Linked DNA regions of Homo sapiens: region 1 is reported to be linked to region 2. The links are microRNA targets in miRTarBase. Many come from high-throughput screens and were not tested one by one. Region 2 holds a microRNA gene; the other region holds the end of a gene's coding sequence.

What was found. Region 2 holds the annotated microRNA hsa-miR-6739-5p (UGGGAAAGAGAAAGAACAAGUA, at 1,935-1,956, shown strand). A microRNA usually pairs through its seed, bases 2 to 8, with sites in the 3' UTR of a target mRNA and lowers its output. Matches are read on the target gene's strand: a 7mer-m8 pairs with bases 2 to 8, a 7mer-A1 pairs with bases 2 to 7 and ends in A, and an 8mer does both.
Region 1: miRTarBase lists WBP1L as a target of hsa-miR-6739-5p. Seed matches in the 3' UTR shown: 8mer at 1,686-1,693 and 7mer-m8 at 52-58.

The regions. Positions count from the first base shown.
Region 1 is chr10:102,812,737-102,815,837 of GRCh38, reverse strand. It overlaps WBP1L (WW domain binding protein 1 like), which reads right to left. Exons shown (of 4, transcript NM_001083913.2): 4 at 1-3,101. The coding sequence ends at 2,507. Among named protein-coding and RNA genes, the nearest start is that of CYP17A1-AS1, 18 kb to the left of the region's middle. RefSeq lists an enhancer at 1-418.
Region 2 is chr1:201,861,444-201,864,635 of GRCh38, forward strand. It overlaps MIR6739 (microRNA 6739), which reads left to right and starts at 1,930; the gene lies at 1,930-2,004. It overlaps IPO9 (importin 9), which reads left to right. Exons shown (of 24, transcript NM_018085.5): 14 at 2,005-2,164.

The DNA.
Region 1 (3,101 bases), not on the chromosome of region 2:
CGCTGCAGTGAGTCCCACAGTTAACACTTGCCCAGTTCCCCACTCTAACTGGGGAAAGGAACTTGAGAGGCTCAGAACTCATCCATTTGATCTGTTAACTGAAAAAGGATTCATTTTGGTAAAACTTGTTCGCCTTTGAGACACTTCAGTGAGTTATTTGGGATTCTTAAAAAATAAAAAAAGGTGGAAGGAAAGGCATCTGAGGGGCTGTGACACACTCCGGCTACCTCTGGCCACACGCCAGCTTGCTTGTGCCTGTTGGACTCACCAGAGGCAGGCAGGCCCTGCGGCTCCTCTAGAGCCTGCAAAGCCTCCTCCTGGCAATTCTGGGCAGGGCCGATGTCTGGGCCACAGCTAGTCCAAGCCTGTCATTGAAGACCCAGTCAAGCTTCTGTCTGAAATTCCACCTTCTTCTGTCCCAAGTGGTTGTGGACACCCCCGGGCGCTGGTACTGAGGACCAGCAGCAGCCGAGGGAGGCAGACAGGCTCAGAGCACGCTTCCATTTATAGGGAACAGAACGCAGGCCTCCGAGTGTCCACGGAGCAATGTGCAAATCGCAGTGATGAGTAGAGTAAAACCTCTACTTCGAGCACAGTATCTCTGGCAAACACAGGGGACTGCAGTCGACAATGCTGCGGAGTACACCCGAGTACACAGTCAGACATTTGTTCGGTAAACAGTAAATGCGTAAGATCAATGACCTTGAGAGGCCTGTCTGTGCTCCAGACGTGTGGTTCACGTGGAGAGAATGGCTGCCACTCAAAGTATCTTCACAGGAAAACAGGGCTTGAGGCACACACACAACAGACAGACACACACGGCTCACCCAAAAAGTCACTGTGTACGGACTTAACTTTGTTCAACATGGATTTTGGTTTTGTGGAATCTAAATGCAGACACTCGTTTACCTCACACCCTTGGATTTGTCTGTTTTTGGACATATATATATATATTTTGTTTGTTTCTTTCTTTCTTCCATAACATCAATGCTTCGTCTGAATATCATCATCGTTCAAGAGTTGGGGGAAGAAAGACTTCATATGCACAGGGCCGGGTGGGGAATGTTTGTTTTGGCTGTTTGCTGCCTCCATTCAGATTTTCCTATCGCAGCTCAGCTGGTGACCTGAAGGCGAGCAACAGGCACAAGGGTCCCCAGGGCCTTCCGGATGGCTGCTTTCACCTCCTGCCTGGGCCACCGAGTCTCTACACAGAAAAATGAGTCACCCGACTCAAAAGGGGTGGGGGTAGAGGCAGGGACAAGGCATGAAAACCACAGATAACCAAGGTGTTTCTTCCAAGTGGTCAGTTTAAAACAAACAACTGCCACCAAAAAAAAAAAAAAAACCCCACAAAAAATATTTATTCAGAATCAAAGATAAAATACTGTGTGAGAGCCAGGCTACAGGGGCCCTTTCTCTGGGGCCATCGCTTCCTCAGTCCGCTGTCTGTTTCCTCATACGGAACAGTGAGACTTGAAGGCCCGCAGGGTGTGTGCTTGCGATGCAGGCTGACACGGGTCACCTGTGAACACAGACCAAAGGGCAGAGAGGCAGAGAGCTGCACCTCTATCCACTGCTGCGGCTTAGGGCCTCCTGCTCACAGAGGTTCCAAGACAGCCGCCACCCCAGCCTTCACACGAGACATCTTCTGGCTCAACAGCAGGCAGGCTCTTTGAAGGCCAACTTGGGAAAGAGCCACAAACGTCATTTTCCAGAAGAGAATTCTTGCCTGCCCACCGGTGAAGTTCTTGTTTTCAGCTGTCTTTTGCTGTTTGTTTTTAGAGAAAAAAACAAACAAACAAAGAAAAGGCAGTATAACCTTTCACACCAGAACCAGCCTGCGGCCAGCCAGAGCCTGCGGGGAAGAGGCCCCTCAAGGACGCATGGGGTGCATAGATCTTGTCACCTGGAATTTGACAGATCAACAAGCCCCTACCAACCTATCATACAACGGCCCAGTAGCTCTCATCCTCCCACAGGATTAGCTCAATGCTGGCTTGGCAGACACTGGCAGCCCAATGACAAGCCCTGGGCCTCTGTGGGTTTCCTTCTTCATCCAGGGCCAAGATGGGCTGCCTCTCCTGGACTGAGATACAGCAACGTTCTCTTAAACTAGAATCAGAGCACAAACCTATTCCATCACCAAGAATCATGTCAGGGCACAGTCCCAGCCTCCTTCCTTGGGGGCTTTTAAAACACATCTCTCTGACCCAAACAGGTAGGTGAGATTTGACTTTAAAGAAAGGAGATGGAGTTAGGGTATGAGGAATGAGTCACAGAACCAACTTAGCCCTCCACAACACTGTGCCCTTGTGGAGGAAGAGGCATCCACACCCCGAACTGTACCTGGAGATGGAGGAAAATGCAGGAGAGGAGAAGGAAAACAAACAAAAAGGAACCAAGTGGCTGTACTCTGAAAGTCTTTGAAAGTCACTTAATGCTTCTCTCGTGGTTCTCCCCTACCCTGGTTGCTTTGCCAAGTTGCTGGGTGCTGGCAGGACCTGCTCTAGCTGGGGGAGCTGCTGCTCTGGGAGTTGGGAGAGTCCTGCTCGTTGATGGTGTTCAGCAGCAGGCATGCGGGCGGCCGTGGCAGGTGCGGGTGCCCAGGCTCTCGAGCCTGCTCCTCAGAGGACTGACAGAGGCCTTCCTCCTCATCACCAGGGGGCCGCACATGGCAGCTGTCGCAGAAGTCCAGGGGCCCATCCAGAGCATCATCGATGAGTGTGTTGAACTCTTTGAGGTCATCGTCATGGTGGCCCCGGTTGCACACACACACTTCAATGCCCGAGTCACCTGTGAAGCGGCGATGTCTCCCAGGCGTCTTCTCTTTGCTGTCGGGTGCGCCGTGTTCAGAGCTGTCATCTTTCAGCAGCTCCTCCCTACATTCTGCATCTTTGTCCAGGAAGGCCCCCGGGTCCAGCTCCCCCAGGCCAGCCACAGAGCCACTGGGCTCCATCCCTGGGGCTTTGGTGGCTGCTCGGTCAACTGGTAGGTCAGAGGGATCAGGGTCAGCGATGCTTGGGGGTCTTGTGCTGCTTCTGCTGGGCTCAGACAAGGGGCTGCTCTGTGCCCCCTGGGATCCCCTGGTGGGATCGATGCCC
Region 2 (3,192 bases):
ATAAAATAGGCTTTGTGTTACGTGAGTTTGCCCAACTTTACGCTAATGTAAGTGTTCTGAGCATGTTTAAGGTAGGCCCGGCTAAGCTGTGATGTTCAGTATTAAATTTAAATGCATTTTTAACTTACAGTATTTTCAACTTACGATGTGTTTATCAGGAAGTAACCCCATCATAAGCAGAGGAGCATCTGTATTGCGTAATTTGACTGGCACAGTTTATTAGGTTCTGTTCAGTGTTTTCCGTCAACAAGATGTTTATTGTGTGAGTAAACAAGTTAAGCCCTGTGACAAGCTGAATAAGAATAGTCTCTCCTCAGCAGCTTATAGTAAACAAGGGTAGTAATCCTTACATTAGTGGCTAGACTATCAAACGAAATATATAACATGTAAGAACACTAAAGACAGAATTACTGTGGCATAGAGATAGTTAGAATTGCTTCAGCCTAAGAGATGAATTAGGTAATGCAAGGAGGTGAATATGTTGGCTTGCAATATGAACAAGGCAGAGAGCTGGGAGAGTAAGATGTAAGTTGCTAAGGAGGGATGTGTACTTGAGTTTGGAAACCATAAAGGGAAATCATAGGTAATGCTAGAGTCACTGATCTTAGGGAGCCTTGAATAACGTGATGACTAAGGTAATCTTTATTTGGTGGACTATGGAATTAATTGACAGATTTTAAATAGAAGAATGACATGATCAGAGCTATAATTTATGTTTTAAGAGTGGTCCAAGGCTGCACGCGGTGGCTCATGCCTGTAATCTCAGCACTTTGGGAGGCCAAGCCGAGTGGATTGCTTGAGTTCAGGAGTTCAAGACCAGCCTGGCCAACATGGTGAAACCCCCTCTCTACTAAAAATACAAAAATTAGCCAGGCGTGGTGGTACGCACCTGTAATCCCAGCTGCTCGGGAGGCTGAGGCAGGAGAATCGCTCGAACCCGGGAAGCAGCGGTTACAGTGAGCTGAGATTGTGCCACTACACTCCAGCCTGGGCAACAGAGCAAGACTCCATCTCAAAAAAAAAGAGTGGTCCAAAAGTGGGAATAAACTAGCAATGGAGATGGCAACTTAGAAGATTAAGTGGGCGGGTACCATGGCTCACACCTGTAATCCCAGCACTTTTGGAGGCCAAGGCAGGCAGATCACCTAAGGTCAGGAGTTTGAGACCAGCCTGACCAACATGGAGAAAGCCCATCTCTACTAAAAATACAAAATTAGCTGGGCGTGGTGGTGCATGCCTGTAATCCCAGCTACTGGGGAGGCTGAGGCAGGAGAATCACTTGAACCAGGGAGGTGGAGGTTGTGGTGAGCCGAGATCGCACTGTTGCACTCCAGCCTGGGCAACAAGAATGAAACTTCATCTCAAAAAAAAAAAAAAAAAGATTAACTAGTAGTACAGGTAAGGAATAATGAGAGCTGGGGGTGAGGACTGGGGTGGTAAAGTCTTTTTAGTCTAATAATATTCAAGATCTACTTTGCTCAGAAGAGACAAGGGAAAACTGGGAAATTGATTTTGTACCACAGGTCACACATTTGCTTTCATCATACAAGGTTATGCTTTTTCTCTCAAATGAGTTGTACATATTATGTAGCATCTATTTACTTCTAAAAAATTGAGGAATGGAGGGCCGGATGCGGTGGCTCATGCCTGTAATCCCAGCACTTTGGGAGGCCGAGGCAGACAGATCACTTGAGGTCCAGAGTTTGAGACCAGCCTGGCCAACATGGCAAAACGCCATCTCTACTAAAAATACAAAAAATTAGCCGGGCATGGTGGCAGGCGCCTGTGATCCCAACTACTCAGGAGGCTGAGGCAGGACAGTTGCTTGAACCCGGGGGACGGAGGTTGCAGTGAGCCGAGATCACGCCATCGCACTCCATCCTGGGTGACAGAGTGAGACTCCATCTCAAAAAAAAAAAATTGAGGAATGAATGTGGGAAAGAGAAAGAACAAGTAAAAGGAATTTTCATTTTCCAGCCCCTAATTGTTCTGTCTTTCTCCCAGTGTCTCCTTTCCTCTTGGGCCGGGCACTTTGGGCTGCCAGTCGGTTCACTGTTGCTATGTCCCCTGAACTGATCCAGCAGTTCCTACAGGCAACAGTTAGTGGTCTTCACGAGACACAGCCCCCATCAGTTCGAATTTCTGCAGTGAGAGCCATCTGGGGGTGAGTATGCTACCCTAGCGTGATAATTAAGGGAAAGTTGCTCAGGTTAGATATAACAAATCACAGTTTTCCAGTGTATTATGTTGCTTGGAAATCCCTGCTAATGATATCCTTCAGGGTGAATGTTGGAAGGACAGGGAAAGAAACCATGCTAGAGACATGGCTTTTGTGAGTCCAGAAGATGTCCTGTTCCTTTCTGCTCCTCTTCCTCTTTAAATTCGCTCCAGTTCTGGAATCATCTAGGCAACTCCCTTTCTCTCAATGGTGAAGAACCTGAGGTTTGGAGAGAAAAATGTTTTGCACAGGGTTGCACAATTGATGAATGATAGAAGCAGGATTAGAGTCCACATCATTTTGTTGGTTGATTATATTAGAAACCAAATCTGGGATAATGTGACCTAGAAACACTGCTTATTTTTTCCCAGTTTTACCTATCTTTTTTAAGGCTAGTGTTACTAATGGATCAAAAGTCATTTATTTATATTCCTACGCAGACTAGAAGGACCATTGTTGTTTTAAGGAATATCTTAGGCTCAAACTTAAACATCTCAACTGAATCCTATAACTACCAACACAAAATTTATTTTCCATGTGCCTGCCCTGTCTTATCTTTTGAGGCAGAGGAGTATCTTTTGAGATGCCGTGTGTTATATGTCATTAGAAAGCATTCAAGAACTGCCTGTTTTAATTAAATGGTTAATGTTATGACCATAAACACCGTCCCATCTTTTTCTGCTTCAATCTAGGTGAAGCAGATCTTTGGCTCTAAAATAATTAGAAGTATCATCTTAAGAGGCAAACTAAGTATAGCTTTTTCAGAAAGCTCTAACACCATTTTAAATGTCTGAGAAGAGAGAGCCCTAAGCTGCTTAAGGCATGAATGTTATTTTAAGGGTTTTTCTGAGTTTGTACCTGTGGTCACTGCCTGTTTAGCTTCTGACCTTAGTGAAACTTGATTTCATTGGAGAATTATCCACTTTGTGTTGTGATTTTATGGAAATGTTTGCAGCTGCAAGCTGTGAGAGGAG